Linked DNA regions of Homo sapiens. The protein of the gene in region 2 purifies or fractionates together with the protein of the main gene of each other region. This does not show direct contact. Each region holds a gene or a part of one and is shown on either strand. Other genes may lie near its edges.

Region 1 (3,808 bases), about 30 Mb from region 2:
AATTTTTTGTATTTTTTAGTAGAGAGGGGGTTTCACCATGTTGGCCAGGCTGGTCTCGAACTCCTGGCCTCAGGTGATCCACCTGCCTTGGCCCCCCAAAGTGCTAGGATTACAGGCATGAGCCCCTGCACCCGGCCTGCTATTTTGCATATTTGTTTAACTTTTTTTTTTTTTTTTTTTTTTTTGTGGAGACAAGATCTTGCTATGTTACCCAGGCTGGTCTCGAACTCCTGGCCTCAAAGTGATCTTCCTGCCTTGGCCTCTCAAAGCGCTGGGATTACAGACATGAACCACTGTGCCTGGCCTCTGTTTTATATATTGTATCTAGGAAGGGACCGATTTATATAAGGTGTCATTTGAGGTTGGGCAATGAGCAAAGGCCCCAAGGGCAAAGGCTGCTTGATATTTTCATGGACTGGTGATTGGAACACTAGTGCATAGGAGGAAGCAAGACAGTGGCAGTTTTAGGCTCATGCATAGAAGCTTATACCAATGTTTTTAGACCATATTTGGTAGGAGATAGGGAGCCAGTGCAGATTTTTGGGGAGCATATCCAAATGGTTGACCTCATCTTGCTAATGAATGCTTCTTTTGAAGAAGAGGCATAGTGCTTTAAAAATGTAGGTTCAGGCTGGGCTCTTCCTTTGCTCATGCCTATAATCCCAGCAATTTGGGAGGCCGTGGCAGGCAGATCACTTGAGCTCAGGAGTTCAAGACCAGCCTGGACAACACGGCGAAAACCTGTCTCTACAAAAAATACAAAAAAATAGCTGGGCATGGTGGCGTGCACTTGTGATCCCAGCTACTCAGGATCGCTTGAGCCCAGGAGGTGGAGGTTGCAGTGAGCTGAGATCATGCCACTGCACTCCAGCCTGGGTAACAGAGTGAGACCCCATCTCAAAAATAAAAATAAAAAATAGCCAGGCGTGGTGGCTCACGCCTGTAATCCTAGCACTTTAGGAGGCCGAGGCGGGCGGATCACGAGGTCAGGAGCTCGAGACCATCCTGGCTAACACGGTGAAACTCTGTCTCTACTAAAAATACAAAAAATTAGCCAGGTGTGGTGGCGGGCACCTGTAGTCCCAGCTACTTGGGAGGCTTAGGCAGGAGAATGGCATGAACCCAGGAGGAGGAGCTTGCAGTGAGCCAAGATTGTGCCACTGCACTCCAGCCTGGGCAACAGAGTGAGACTCTGTCTCAAAAATAAAAAATTAAAAAAAAAATGTAGGTTCAATATTAGAGGAAACTGAGTGACCATTATACAGGAACTGTGTACTATTTTTACAGCTTTTCTGCAAGTCCACAGTTATTTCAAAATAAAAATTTTTTTTAAATGTAGGTTCAATAAAGTGTTTAAGGCTGAACTATGCCTGCAACTTTCAAATAGTTGAAAAACAATAATGACAAAACCCATATAAGTATGGAGAGAGAGTGTGTTAACATCTTATGAACTGTAAAATTGCTAAATAGGTGAATTGTTAGTATGGAAGTGTTCCATGTATCATTCTTTCAACTTTTCTGAAGATTTAAAAACAGCTTCAAAATAAGCAATCAAGCGACAGTATACGTTTGAATCAGGCAGGCTTGTTCAAGTCATGATTCCCCTACTTACAAGCTGTGTGTGGCTGGGCGCGGTGGCTCACGCCTGTAATCCCAGCACTTTGGGAGGCCGAGGCAGGCGGATCACAAGGTCTGGAGATGAGACCATCCTGGCCAACATGGTGAAACCCTGTCTCTACTAAAAATACAAAAATTAGCCGGGCATGGTGGCAGGCGCCTGTAGTCCCAGCTACTCAGGTGGCTGAGGCAGGAGAATCGCTTGAACCTGGGAGATGGAGGTTGCAGTGAGCCGAGATCACACCACTGCATTTCAGCCTGGGCAACAGAGCAAGACTCTGTCTCAAAAAAAAAAAAAAAAAAAAAAAGCTGTGTGAAGTATTGGAAAATTATTTCTAAACTACATATTCTAGTCTAGTTTATTTTTATTAAAAATATATTTTTAATTATTTTTTTTTCTTACACTGTAGCTCTTACCAGTCTAGTCTGAGATTTTTCCATATAAGAGAGGAGACTTACTTTGGTTGTTGACTTGTTCACATTAATGCTGGGTTAATGTTAAGACTTCAGGTTTTCCACAAACTTGAGATCTTTAGGTTGTTTTTAGGTCGACTCTAGTTTTCCTGTAATTATCTGATGTATATACACTTACAGAGACTGGCATAGGCAATCTATTAGAGGAAAAAGGTTAGGAGTCAGGATACTTGGGTTCTGGATCCATCTCTGCCTTTAAGTAGCAAATGATTTCACTAATCTGAACCTTTATTTATTTATTTTATTTTATTTTTTGAGACAGAGTCTTGTCTGTCACCTAGGCTAGAGTGCAGTGGCGCAATCTCAACTCACTGCAACCTCTGTCTCCTGGGTTCAAGTGATTCTTGTGCCTCAGCCTCCCAAGTAGCAGGGATTATAGGCATGTGCTACCACGCCTGGCTAATTTTTGGATTTTTAGTAGAGATAGAATTTCACCATGTGGGCCAGGCTGGTCTTGGACTCCTGAGCTCAAGTGATCCGCATGCCTCGGCCTTCCGAAGTGCTGAGATTATAGTTGTAAACCACTGGTACCCAGCTGAACTCTTATTTCTTACCAAAAAATCATGGCGGTTGGATTTCTTGATCTCTGTCTAGCTCTAAAGTCCTGTAATTCAGGAAAACTACCACTTAATGATTTGATCATTTAGTTTGAACTGTCTCATGGTTGGGACAGAGGGTTATGACTTGCCTGGAGTCCAGGGCTCCTGACAACAGGTTACTTTTTCTACTGACCCTCACTGCCTATGGTTTTAGATTGTGTTATGTGTTAAAAGCAGTTACTTAAACACACATACACAAACATGCATATCACACCATATTTACAACAGGTTGTGAAGCTCAGTTTTAAATGGCCTAGATTTCTTAGGAAAATCCCAGTACAGGTTGAGTATCCCTTACCTGAAATGCTTGGGACTGGCAGTGTTTCCAATTTCTGAATTTTTTTTTTTAATATTTGTTTTATACTTACTAGTTGAGCATCTCTAATCTGGAAATCCAAATTGCTCCAGTGAGCATTTCTTTTGAGCATCATGTTGGTGCTCAAAAGTTTCAGATTTTGGTGCATTTTTGATTTTGGATTTTTGAATTAGGGATACTCAACCTGTATCTGATTAATATGTCATCAAATCTATCCAATGAAGCTGTCATATTTTAAAACTAAATATAACTGTTTTTAGAAAAATATTACAAAAAGAAATAAAACCTTGCTTAGATACTTCCTCCCAAAGTTGTGTGTGTCTGGGGACTTAAGAAATACATTTCCCAAGGCTGCGTATCCAGAGTATTGGAACATTCAGTGACGATTTCTTAGGAATTGAAATATAAACTGCAATTGAAAACAAAATGACTTAGCTGGGCACAGCGGCGTGTGTCCATAATACCAGCTAATCTGGAAGCTGAAGTGGGGGATTGTTTGAGGCCAGGAGTTCAAGGCTGCAGTGAACTATGATCATGCCACTGCACTCCAGTCTGAGCAACAGAGTGAGACTGTGTCTCTTAAAGAAAAGAAAAAGAAAATTATGTAACAGGTTATATTCAAGCTACTCTTTTCCCCTTCAGATAAGAATTAGACTTTATAGCTTTATTGTAGTATAATTGACATACAATAAGCTGTACATATTTCAAAGGTACTCTCTCTATATATATACATAAAACTGTCACCACAATCAAGATAGTGAACATATCCATCAATCCCCAAAATCTCCTCATGCCCCTTTGT
Region 2 (3,908 bases):
GCACGGGCTAGATAGGAAATTGGGCCCCAAACCCTTCTCCAGGGTCCATTTTGCGTTGGTCTAAGAGGCCGTCCTGGGCTTGACCTTGCGTTTCCAGGATGATGCCCACACCTGCTGCCCTTCCTCTCTGGTTCCCTGCCCACCTCCTTCCTTCCCTGCAGATTCCACTTCCTGGGTCCTTCCCTCAAGTTCCTGGACCCCCGCTGGCTGCAAAGTGGAGGCCAGGTTCCAATCTGGCCTCCGACTGGCTACGTCTGGTTTCACCAGGGGTTTAAGACAGATTTTCTACATGTGACAACGAGATGGGTTCACATAAGAGCCCAGATTCCCAGCTTCTCTTGAGGCCTCCAAAGACCTGGTACTACTGGGTCACCACAGAAACAGTGACAGCCCCTCGACAAGGGAGGCCTATGTCACCCCATACTCATACCTCACAGGATCCTTAGGCTTCTATCCCCTAGGGGCTGGGCTCGTGAATCTAAGTGCTCCCCTTCTTTGCTCTCCTGTTCCCCAGGCCCTCAGAGAGCCAGCCTCCTGGATGCCCCCCAGACACAGTGGGTGCCATGGAGCCAGTGCCTCTCCCTCACTCTGCTGTCCTGGAGCCTGGCTCCCTGTGGTAAGCCAGGCTTGCAGAGGTGGCTCCTGACATCAATCCGCGGGCATGTGGCTGCTGCGGGAGGCACACACTGGCTCAGGACAAAGGGCAAGGGCTCACGGCTCTACCCACGACTCAAAGAGCATGCCCCAGCCCTTCAGATATGGCCCCACCTAGGCCTTCATGCCAGTGTGCTTTTATAGTCACCCTGCCAAGGACCCAGAATGTCCTTCCCCAGGTGACACACCCTACCTACAGAGAATTCTGCCCCAGCCATGCCTGCCCTTGATAATATACCCCGCCAGCACGGCCTCTGCCCAGCCATCCCTCCCGTGTCAGGCAGGCTCCCCGCAGAGTCCCTGGGTGATGCCTCTCTGGCCCTGGAGCCCCAAGGCCAGCCCAGGCCTCTGCTCTGGCAGAACAAGTGCGGCAGGCGGGCGTGCTGGCAGAGCTCGGCGTGGGTAGATGGAGCTCGGAGGGTCCGGAAGGGTCCAGGTTCCCTCGCCCTCCTCCGCAGCCTCTCTGGGATGGCGCTCCGGGACAGGGAAACAGGGAAGCAGGTGGCGGGGAGGCCGAGGGGCAGCTGGACTCAGCCCGCTTAGGCCTCCAGCAGGCAGGCAGGCAGGAGGCCACTCTCCCGGAACCTCCAGGCCGGGGGAAGAGCGCCTCCGAGGGCTCAGGCCCTACTCGGCCCCACCATCGCCAAGACCGGCCAGCGGGGCGGCGCGGGGGGATCGGCCCGCACCCTCCGCCTGCAAGAGCGCTGGGCGCACGCGGAGGGCGGGGGCCAGCCCGGGAAGCTCGGGGTGCGGAGGACGGGCTGGGGCCGCACGGGAGCGCAGGGCAGCAGGGGCCGGGCTGCCTCAGGACGCCTCCCTCCCTCCCTCCCTCCCTCCCACAGGCCGGATGCTGCCGACGCGTTCTGGGCGCCGAAGGGAGTCCCAGGACCGGGTGTCACGCCGGGGTCGCCCAGGCCGGCGCGGGGCAGCAGGCAGCAGGGTGGGGGGGTGCCCTCGCGCCTGTGTCCCTCACGCCGCCCCAGCTCCTGCCCAGGTGGCTGTGGCTGGCGTTCCGGGACCTCTGTGACCTTGGGTCTCTGCCCCTCTCCGAGAACCCCACGGGTCCCCAGCTCAGCGTCGGGACAGCTGCGCCCGCGGAGTCCGGTCCGGAGCACCCACGGGCGCGGCCCGGGCCCGAGGAGAACGCCGCGGCTCCAGCAGCAAACAAGTGGGGGAGGGTGGGAGGGGCGTCCTCGCGCCGCCCGGGCGGGGAAGGGGCGCCTGCGTCGGCTTCCGGCCGCCTTCCGCGGCCACCGCCGGGCCCGCTCCCGCCGCCGACGCCCAGGTGCGCCAGGTGCGGGCCGGGCGGGGGTCGCGCTCACCTTTCTGGCCGCTGAGTGCCGCGTACCAGGACAGCGAGAGGAAGGCGCACAGGCAGAAGAGCAGCAGCGTCAGGAAGGTGCCATTGCGGAGCCTCATCTCCTCGGGTGCGCGGCGGGCGCCCGCGGGGCCGAGGCTGCATGGCCCGGGGGACCGGGGCCGGGGCGCAGGGGTCGGAAGGCGGCGGCGGCGGCGGCAGGGGCCCCGGCCCCGGGTCGGGGAGGGGCGGGGGGCCCGGGGCCGGGCGGGGACCGGGCCAGGGAGCGCGCCGGCCGCCCCTCAGGGCGCAAGCTTTGTGCCCTGTACTCAGGGAAGAGGAACAGGCTCAGAAGGGCAGAGGCAGGTATCAGGCTCACTGCAGATATCAGGGGCGCGGGACACTGGCGGCCTCGCCTCCGCGGCAGGGCCGGGCCGGGCCGGGCTGGGCTGGGCTGGGCGGCGAGAGCCGCGGCCCGGCCTGGATCTGGGGCCTGGATCTGGGGCCGCCGCGGAGTCGACGGCGCAGGGCGGGGCGGCCCGGATTTAAAGGGGCCGCAGCACCGCCGTCGCCGGCGCCGCGAGGGGGTGGGGTGGGGGCCGGCGGCCGGGATCCCGATCGGCTCCCGCAGCCCCGCGTGGGCTCGTGCGAGTCGGCCTCAGGTAAGGCTGGAGTGGGAGTGCAGGTCGACCGCAGCCGGGGCGGGGGGCGGGCGGCGGGGGCGGCGCTCCGGGACCCCGGTACCCTTCTCAGCAACATCTCCTCCGCGCGCGGACCCCGACCCCATTCGCACGTTCTCGGGGCTCTTTCCCGGGCGTGAGGGGCTCTGGGTGGCGCGGGGGACTGGGCGGTTGAAGCCGGGAGCGACCGCTGCCTTCGCTGCCGCCCAGGGCGCTTCCCCGCTCAGGAGCTTCCTCTGGGCCTCTGGACGGAGGCGCGCAGGGGCCCGGGAGGCGGGAACGATGGGCCTTTCTAGGCGGTATCAGGGCCGATGCTCGTGGATGCAGAGCAGTGACCAGCCCAGAACCGTACCGGCTTCCCGGGGCAGGGGCGGCCCGAGAGCGCCGCTAACGGGAGCAACGGGCCCTGCCCCCGGTGGTGTAGGGGCCACCTCGCCCCGCCCAGCCCAGCCCGATATTGATGGGGGCCCACGCCTTCATTGTTTTTTTGTTGTTGTTGTTTTTTGTTGTTTTTTGTTTGTTTGTTTTTGAGACGGAGTCTCGCTCTGTTGCCCAGGCTGCAGTGCAGTGGCGCAATCTCGGCTCACTGCACCCTCCGCCTCCCGGGTTCAAGCGATTCCCCTGCCCCAGCCTCCCGAGTAGCTGGGACTACAGGCGGCCGCCACCACACCTGGCTAATTTTTGTATTTTTAGTAGACACGAGGTTTCACCGTATTGGCCAGGCTGGTCTCGAACTCCTGACCTTGTGATCCGCCCGCCTCGGCCTCACAAAGTGCTGGGATTACAGGCGTGAGCCACCACGCACGGCCCATTTGCGTTCTAATTTCAGGCGTTCCTCAATCCTCTGTGGAACCAGGAAGGGCGCAAATTATAAAGGGACTGGCCCAGCGCCGCCTCTGGGCAGGCTTTGGGCAGCGCCTGGCCCGCTGCCGGCTTGGACCTCCCAGACCTAGGGGCCCGGTTCCTGGTGGAGGCTGCAGGGACCTCTGCCCCACCCGCCCGGGGGAGGCCCGAGGGGCTGGACTCAGACTGAGATTGAATGCGGCTTTGTCTTCCTAGTTCAGCCCCGGCCCACACCTGGGGCTGAGTGGAATCGGGAGCTTCGAGGGGTCTGGACAGAGAGATTGATGCCAAGAAGGGGGTGGCCGAGCCAGAGGTTGAAGTGGGCTGGATCCTGAGGCCCCCTGTTAAAGGAGAGGGCTCCCCACTCAGTGCTCCTGGAACTTTCCGAACTAGAGACTGGGACTTATAGGAGCCTTCTAGAGGAAACTGTCGTG

What was found.
Region 1: the proteins of MGAT4B (region 2) and SLC26A2 fractionate together in Homo sapiens (co-fractionation; one large-scale study listed by BioGRID). This does not show direct contact.

What each region holds. Positions count from the first base shown.
Region 1 is NC_000005.10:149,963,578-149,967,385, forward strand, and holds part of SLC26A2 (sulfate transporter), read left to right. Parts: intron 1-3,808. UniProt on the Homo sapiens protein: Sulfate transporter which mediates sulfate uptake into chondrocytes in order to maintain adequate sulfation of proteoglycans which is needed for cartilage development.
Region 2 is NC_000005.10:179,804,511-179,808,418, forward strand, and holds the start of MGAT4B (alpha-1,3-mannosyl-glycoprotein 4-beta-N-acetylglucosaminyltransferase B), read right to left. Parts: upstream 2,357-3,908; 5' UTR 2,074-2,356; coding exon 1,977-2,073; exon of another isoform or gene 1,883-1,976; intron 1,825-1,882; exon of another isoform or gene 1-1,824. UniProt on the Homo sapiens protein: Glycosyltransferase that catalyzes the transfer of GlcNAc from UDP-GlcNAc to the GlcNAcbeta1-2Manalpha1-3 arm of the core structure of N-linked glycans through a beta1-4 linkage and participates in the production of tri- and tetra-antennary N-linked sugar chains.